2 separate regions of the Homo sapiens genome follow, and region 1 is linked to region 2. The links come from fine-mapping of genetic effects on gene expression. A gene starts in region 2. The other region holds a variant in brackets. All regions are shown on one strand. Distances are between the middles of the regions. Region 1 has its middle 57 kb from the start of CDADC1. Region 2 holds the start of CDADC1 (cytidine and dCMP deaminase domain containing 1).

Evidence for each region. PIP is the estimated chance that this variant, and not a neighbour inherited with it, causes the effect.
Region 1: its variant is the best candidate, but not a certain one, in a credible set for the expression of CDADC1 in prefrontal cortex (BrainSeq, PIP 0.80).

What each region holds. Positions count from the first base shown.
Region 1 is chr13:49,302,853-49,307,243 of GRCh38, reverse strand. No RefSeq gene overlaps it. Among named protein-coding and RNA genes, the nearest start is that of CDADC1, 57 kb to the right of the region's middle. RefSeq lists an enhancer at 548-1,047 and a silencer at 3,277-3,571. The variant T/C (reference allele first, on the strand shown) is at 2,666.
Region 2 is chr13:49,245,981-49,250,371 of GRCh38, reverse strand. CDADC1 (cytidine and dCMP deaminase domain containing 1) reads right to left here and starts at 2,447. Exons shown (of 10, transcript NM_030911.4): 1 at 2,253-2,447; 2 at 1,407-1,501. The coding sequence starts at 2,334. LOC105370203 (a long non-coding RNA gene) reads left to right here and starts at 2,532. Exons shown (of 2, transcript NR_135318.1): 1 at 2,532-2,737. RefSeq lists enhancers at 2,325-2,554, 2,024-2,586.

The sequences.
Region 1 (4,391 bases), 57 kb before region 2:
TTTGAGCAGTCCTTCAACTTGACATAGGCATTAATTTCAGATTGCAGCGGTGGCAGTGGCTTATGCCTCTAATCCCAGCACTTTGGGAGGTGGAGATGGGGGTGGGCTGGGGATGGGGGGCGGGTATGGCAGAGTTGGGGGATCAGGATTGCTTGAGCCCAGGAGTTTGAGACAAGCCTAGGCAACGTAGCGAGACTTCATCTGTAGAAAATAAAATTAAATAATTAAAGTGTTAAAAAATTTTTTCAGATTGCAATTCTGCACCTGTTTTGTTTTCTTGGCTTTCTTTTTCAGTTGGACATAACATTAGCTTAGATTTCCTGACAGGAGCGATTGCCACTCAGCCAGCCATTCCACCATTTCCCAGTGGCCCCAGCACCATGGGGCTACAGAGGCTGAAGTTCATGGTGGATGCACATCCAATACCTGCCAGGGTCCCCGCCTTCCCTCATCACTTCCTCCTCATGGAGGAGCATGTGCAGTTACAATACCCTAAAATAAAGTCGCCATCAAAACACACAAAAAGCCGCAACCCCTTTACCATCAACCAATGTAACATAGATGCAATTTAATCACTCCACTGAGAGCCATCTGTGTTACTTTAAAATACTGTGATCATAGGGTCCCTTTGGAGAATATGTTGCAATATACATTGATAATTTATCCTTTAGGGAAGGTTGGAAAAAATAAGATCACTTTTAGTTTTAGTTCTGATATTTAAAGCTGTAAAGCAAAAATATGTATTCAACTACTCATTTATTTGTTCATTTAACATCTGTTGAATTCATTCTCCTTGCTGGTTAGGGATGGATCCTGGGACAGGACCCCGAGTGACACACCGGGGTTACTGTAGGCCTCCTGTGGTGGTGGAGCTCGTGGGGCAGGGGAATCAGAGGCCTTTGTAAGTCTGTCCCCTGCAGCTGGCACTGGGGCCGAGTCAGCAGAGAAGGGAGGATAGACAGGAGGTGAGGAGCCCGGGGGGAAGGGCAGATCCCTCTGCCGACCCTGAGGACATGGCGGACCTACAGAAGGGCAGGCACCCTTCAGTGCAGAGCCCCCCACACTGGGCCCACAGTGGTGAAGCTGAAGGGGGAGGTGCAGGGAATGGGGAACCCTGACAACAAGGGGAGCCAGAGGTCTCTGACAACGCCAGCCAGCTGTGACCACACGGGGCCCGCCCCAGTTCACCTCCCCTCACAGCTGACACGATGTGCTCTTGGGACCAACTCTAATTCATCACCTGCCAGAGAGGGAATTGTGGAAACACGCTCATGCTTAGCAAAACAGACATTGCAGATGCCGCCAGATGTGTTCTGCCCTGGGGAGATGCTGACATACACCCTGCTACCATCCTTTCCCATCTCGGAGACGTCAGGTCCCTTTTTCCTTTGAAATGTCATCTACTCATGAGAGGTTTGTGTGGATTAACTAGAACCACCTGGACTTTGGGATAGGCCACACCTGGACTGAAATCCTGGCTCCACGGCTAGCTGTTCCCTCTTGAGAATCACCGAGCTTCCAGGAAACAGGCCAAAAGAGGACCTGCCTCACAGGATTGTTGTGGGAACCAACGAGGTAAAGTAGGTGACATGCCGGGCTCAGATTCGGCGCCCACATTAGCCCCGTCACCAGAGCGAGAGATTCCCGCTGCAGGGAGGGCCGTGGGCACGAAGCATGGCTGGAAAATGACGAGGCGTGTGCGCTTTGTCCGGGGCATGTGGGGATGTGAGAGGGCCGGGAGGGAGCCTTAAATGCCCAGCTAAGGGTCTGACGCCATCATTAAGGCGGCTGGCCTTTATTCAGGAAGTGACCTGAACACCTGTGTGTCTGGTGGGGGAGAGCTCTGGAGCCGGGCCTGGAGGGGGAACAATGAGGGAGGGTGGGATGATGAGCGCCAGCTGGTAACAGCGAGTGCGAACTCGGTGCTGCTGGCAGTCCCCCTCCAGATGCTTTAGAGTATTAACATCAGTCTTCAGAAACCTTATGAGGTGCGTACTGTGATTATCCTGTCAACCTAAATAACCAGAGAGTGGCTCTCAAAGAAAGTGATGTTTACTCAGGAATAGGGCACTGCCAGGGAGTATGCCTGCCAGAGTAAAAAGCACGTGTGCCTTCAGGGAGATGAAGGAAGGCAAAGGTGAAGGAAAGTGAGGACTGTATTGTTGCTTTGAAGTAATGATCCTTGGCTGCAAGGGTTAATTGCAAGAGGGACACCAGTCCAAGGCTGGACAGGTAGTTACTGGGCAGCTGTCCTCCTAGAAGCATTTTTTGTGCAAGGTTGCAGTTTTCATAGTCTGCCGTGGTAGTTTTTGTTATTAGGCATTTATGCATGCGAATATTTCTCTTCATGGCCTTCCCTTGGCTCTATTTGTCAGGATTTGTTTTTAACAAAAGTGGCTCCATTCTGATTATGACATCTTTCACAATCCCAATATTACAGGCATGGAAACAGGGACTGAGAGGGTTGCTCACCCAATTATACAGTGAGCAGATGGTGGTGCAGGATTCAAACCCAGAGCCCAGAGGCAGCAGCCATAGAACTTGGGAGATACTTAGGATTTACTATTGACCAGGCATAGCTGAACCATTTCTGGAGGACATGGGCCTGTGGCGTGGGTGACCTGAGTAGAAGGGGATGTGCTCAGCCAAGACAGGGAGCCCGGGA[T/C]GGGGGGCAGAGGCACACGAGTGTCCTGTGCCTGGAGACGTGGCGTGGGGATGTCCAGGCAGCCGTTGGACAAATGAGTCTGGGGCTCAAGAAAGACGTGGGCCAGAGGCACCGATTTGGCGGTCACTGAGATTTAGGGAGCAGCTGAGGTCTGGGTGAAGAGGAAGCGATCCATTCCTTGCTGCGATTCAAACCTCCGGACCCACCCAACTTTTCACCTGCCTCCATTTGTATTTTAACCTTATCTGTAACCTACATCCCACCTCAACCCGAGGTGTGGGGGTGGCTGGGCAGCAGGGGGACCCCACGGTTCCCATGTCCTTTCTCCATGGCAGTGTCCATGCTCAGTCTAGGTCTCCACCTGGCCTGGGGGCACGCAATATCATCCCAAAGTTTGTATTTGATCCAGTTAGTTCTGAGGGCCAATTAGTCATCCAGAGGCTTGTAACCCTGTTATCCCAGAGACCAGGCTGACAGTGTTTTTATAAAGTGCCATCAGGACAAAGGGTGGTTGAACTCCAGGCCAGGGCCTAGCTGTGTCACCCCAGCCCCGCCCTGGGGAAGTCTTGACCAGGACCCCAGCATCAGGGACAGATGATGCTTATATAATCACAGGACTCTTGGGGAAAACGGGCAAGGCCCTAGGTGCAGACTGGTTCTTCTGCAGGGGAAAAAGCCTCTGCCCTTTTCCCTGGGAACTGAGCATGACATTCCCATGGCTGTGACCTGCTGGCCTGGATGAATGAGGCTCTGTGCTACCAAGCGTGTGGGAGGAAGGAAGAGGGCGTGCCTGCAGCTGCCTGGTGGCCTCTGGCAGCACCAGGCGTGTCCTTCACCTTGACCAGGGACCATTTCCAAGCCGGGTGGCTTTGTTCAGTTGTCAATGTGCTATGCCCATCAGAATCAAGATGTGGCACGTGACCTGCAGCCAGGGAACAGGCACCCGTATAAGAAGGCCAGGGCAGGGCGGGCATGACAGTTTCCCTCGCACCTTCAATTCCCTTCTTGGGTCTTGGCTCTTCTTTCTAATGTCTTCACAAGTTTTCAGGTAGTTCCTGCACAAGATGTGCGTCACCCGTCAAAAAAGCACCATTTATCCCTCAGCTGCCCCTCCAGCCCCTTTTCTGTCTCTCTGCCCTCCTTCAGGGCAAAACTTCTCCAATTTCTCCACGAATGGGCTACACCTCCTCACCTGTGATGTACCTCACAACCCACCCATCTCTGGCTTCCCCACCTCCCTGGAAGATGCTCTTCCCAGGGCTATCCAGGGCCTCAGAGCCACCAGATCCAGTAGCGATTTCCTGTGCTCATCTGACCCCTCAGCAGCAGGTGACAGAGCTGGTGGCCTCTTCTCCAGGCCCTCTCCTCTCCTGTCGCCCAGGCAACCTCACCCTCCTGTGCTCTCTCAGCTCAGCCTCCTCCACCTCAGAGCCGAGCACTGAGCACCGTTGTGCCTGGACTCAGTCTCCTGCGCATCTCCTCTCCATCTCCCTGTCTTCCTGCAAGGCTTCAGGTCTGTGGTCTGTGCGTGCCCCACCGTGGCTCCCACCTCTGTGGCTCCGGGCCGACTTCGGCAATCTCCAAGCTCATGCATGCACTCACCTGCTGGCTGGATGCCTCTCAGGCTCCCTCTCTCCAAGGTACAGTTCAAAATATGGCATGTGACTTCCTGTCACTCCCTGCACCTGGCTTCCCCAGCTCTGCTGATGCCCCTGAAATTCCCCCA
Region 2 (4,391 bases):
CCTAGTGTTTCTACTCATTAGAAAATAAAGACCATGTTTTTTCTGCTTTGTGTCTCCAGTGCCAAGCACAAAACCTCATCCACAGTAAAATGAAAAGAGTAGGTGGTCTCCTAAGAGTACTGTGGGAATTTAAGGATTTATAGTCTTTCTCTGGAAAATCTAAAGCAACCTTTCAGCAGAATTATGGGCAAGTTGGAAACCTCAGCGAGTACATGCAGAATATAACTACAACTTTGTAAGAGTAAAAATAAAAAACCTCATGCTTAAGATTGGAAGCACCAAAATATTAACAGTAATGTTGTTAGAGTGGTGAGAAGCCATGTGTAATTTTCTGCCCCACCCCCCTCATTTTACCTCTGTTTTAAAAAAAGTCTTAAATGCTCAACTTAACCTAATACTATTTTCCAATGGCCGTGGCCCCCTATAAAAATTAATGCCAACACCCTAAGCTTCCAAAATTATCAAACAGAAATGATGAGAACCTAGCATCATGCCATTCCAAGCATGGAGGAAAATGAGAACCTAGCCCCTTGTTGCCCCAAGGGTAGGAGAAAGAAAAGACGCAGGATGTTTATACTTCCAATTCCAATATATTGGCTTTTATGATTATTCTTACTATACATTTCTGATTTTTTTTTTGAGATGGAGTCTTGCTCTGTCACCCAGGCTGGAGTGCAGTGGTGCAATCTCAGCTCACTGTAACCTCCAACGATTCGTTCAAGCGATTCTCATGCCTCAGCCTCCCGCGTAACTGGGACTACAGGCGGATACCACCACTCCTGGCTAATTTTTGTATGTTTAATAGAGATGGGGTTTCACTATGTTGCCCAGGCTGGTTTTGAACTCCTGACCTCAGGTGATCCACCCACCTCAGCCTCACAAAGTGCTAGGATTACAGGCGTGAGCCACTGCACACAGCCCATTTCTAATCTGTTTTGATCCTGTCTTTCAAGATCCAAAAAGAGACTACTTCCATCCAACATTAATCAATTAGCACTCATATAATGCTAGACTCTAAAGGGTATATGCTAGGTAAAATAAGACATGGTCTCTATCTCCAGGCAATTTATATATTTCTGTGGCAGAGGAGTAAACTACCTAGATAAAACACCAACAGTATATATAATTGGGGGAAATTATGTGGTATAGACAATAATCTTATTAGCCGAACTGACATATGAATACCATTAGTACCCGATAAACATGGTATTCTCAGAAAGTATTTTTAGAATGGAAGATGACTTATTACGGCTGGGAATTATAAAGTGTCATGTTAATCAATAAAGATATTTTTTAAATCTTAAGCCTTGTTAAGTTTGGTTTTAGGTATGACAGAAACTGGAGCAATAAACTCAGATTTTAAACCACTGCTTTTCTAAGGGGAAAAACTATGAAACAAATTATACCTGAGATTTTTGCCGCTGGGCTTCTGCTGGAAAGAGCTCCATCCAGAGGCTGAGCAGAGTGAAAAGGTTGACTTTAGAAAGCCTTGGTATCTGACCTACAAAAGAGACGACAAACACTTTAAACTTTGTTACTAATGGTGAAAAAGGGAGCCAATCTCAATGCCACTTAGGTGCTGCAGCCTAAGCCCAGCTGCTTTCGCAAGAGGCACAGAAAAAGATAGGGGACAAGAGAGTCAGAGGTATCTTAGCAGTAGACGCTTCAGCCTTAGTCGTGGCTACCTCCTTCTCCACTTAAAAAGTTGAGCCTTCTTTCTCCAGCCCTCACCCTGCAGGAAAAAACGGTACAGCTAATACACATAGCTGAGGGGGACAACCCAAAGCAAGCTGTGAAAAGTCTTCGCATCTGACGTCGTCGTGGTGCAAGCTTTTCTTTGGACTGTGATGGGGCGTTGCTAAAAGGAAAGCGATTAGAACACAACCCGAAAAATGCGCTGACCTTCGACGGTAAAGCAGTCGAAATACAGGAAAGCGTCACGTGCGGTTAATTTGGAAATCAAGGCAAAAGCGCCGTTTGGAAATGTTCAGGCTCTTTGACCTCAGAGGCCCCAGCTCTAGGTCCTGTGAGAAGTAGCTAACAGGGGTAAAAAGCGAGACTTCAAAAGCCAGTGCGACCGAGCCGATTGGTCCTGGCGACCGCGGAGGGGACACGCAGAGGGCGGGCAGGAGACATCCAAAAGCAGCAGGGGAGGCAAAGAGGCTCAGACAAGGAATCTGGAGTTCAATGACGGGAGACGCACAGGGCAGAGCGAAAGGTAGGGTGGCGGGAGCAGGGTCCCGGACACTCACCGGTCATGCTGCCAGTCTGGGTGCTGACTGACCGCCCGGCCCTCGCGCTCTCCAGATTTTGCATCTGCCCAGCTTCTTTCATCCCAAACCTAGCGTCCTCTGCTGCCAAGGAAACCTCTCCCAGTCAGACATGATCTCGGCCCTAGCGCCCCCGCCTCTCGCCTCCTCTCAGCAACTGTAAGGCAACGGCCCACTAGGCGCAGCCAGATGACGCCTCAAGCTTGACCGCCACTTCAGGGCTCCTCGTGTGACGTCATAGAGAGGCGGGGCTTTGGCGCCAGAGGGCTGCCCCTCGGCCGGTGACCGAGTTAAGCACCGAGCTGTAAATCGCTTGAGACCTGTATTTGGTTGTTTTGTTGGTTTTGCCAAGTAAGGTCACTTGAGGATTTCTTGGCTCGAGGTCCCAGGTTGCGCAGACTCTGACTGCATCGAGTTGAGAATTTTGGTCAGAATGTTAAAGTGGAAACCTACCCCAGGCTGTCATGGTCAGTGTTTTAGAGAACTTCTTGGGTTGGGGTGTGGAGCTGGGCGGTCCAGGATGTTCTGTCATCAGAGACTGGCGGGTTCTGGGGAACTTGGTGCCATGGAACACAGTAGGGACGTTCTGCTTCTCATCAAGAACATGAAGACATTAAGAGGTGGAATTGTAATGGGGAAAAAGGTGAGAGGAGGCAGTAGGAGTTATTTTGTTTTTAATTTCTAATGTCTAGTTTATTTCCACAAAACATCTGTATCATACCAGTTCTTTGAAATTTGTTCAGACTTGTTTTATGACCTAGATCAGCACTGTCCAGTAGGATTTCCTGTAGTATTCTATATCTGCACTGTCCAATATGGTAGCCACCAGCCACATGTGGCTATTGAGCATCTGAAATGTGGCCAGTACAACCAAGGAACTGCATTTTTAACTTCATTTAGTTTTAATTAATTTACATTTTAAGTAGTGACATGTGGCTATTGGCTACTACTGTATTGGACAACATTACTCTAGACTCTCCTCCTGGAATTCCTATTAGGCATAGGTTAAACCTTCTGAGGTTCTAAATTATTATTTTTAAAATATTGCATCATTTTGTTTCTCTGAGCCACATTCTGGCTAATTTCTTCAGATCTATCTTTCAGCTTGCTATTTATTTCTTTGGCTTGTAGAATTTTTTCTAGTTCGCCTGTTCTGAGGGTAAAGCTCTTCAGGTGATTTGACTATATCCAGAGAACTCCATTCTGCACCTTTCCTGAAGTGTAGACTTTGTTGACAGTGCCTTCATGGCAATTAACACTAAGGTTTAAAGACAGGCCATGGACTAGGAGAAAATATTTGCAAAGCATGTATCCAACAAAGGACTCATATCCAGAATATATAAAGAACCATATAAACTCAGAGTAAGTAAACAGTCCAGTTAGAAAATGGATCAAAGACTTGAATAGTCATTTCACCAAAGAAGATATACAGATGGCAAATAAACATGTAAAACAGTGTTCAGTGTCATTGGCCATTAGGGAAATGTATATTAAAACCACAATGAGATTCTACTACACACCTATTTAAATGGCTAAAATAACAAGTACTGACAGCACTAAATGCTAGTGAGGATGCAGAGCAACCGGATCTCTCAAACATTGCTGGTAGGACTATAAAATGGCATAACCACTCTAGAAAACAGTTTGACAGTTTCTTATAAAGTTGCACATATGCTTATCATATCACCCAGCAATCACACTCCTGGGTATTTATCCTAGACAAACCAAAACTTATGTTCAAACAAAACTCTGTACATGAATGTCATGGTGGCTTTATTTTTAATAGTCAAAAACTGAAAACAGGCCAGGCATGGTGGCTCACACCTGTAATCCCAGCACTTTGGGAGGCCAAGGCGGGCGGATCATGAGGTCAGGAGTTTGAGATCAGCCTGGGCAACATGGCGAAACCCCGTCTCTACTAAAAATACAAAAAATTAGCCAGGCGTGGTGGCATGTACCTGTAGTCCCACCTACTCAGGAGGCTTAGGCAGGAGAATCACTTGAACCCGGGAGGCAGAGGTTGCAGTGAGCCAAGATTGCACCACTGCACTCCAGCCTGGGCGACAGAGTGAGACTCCATCTCAAAAACAAAAAAACAAAAAAACTGTAAACAAGCCAAAC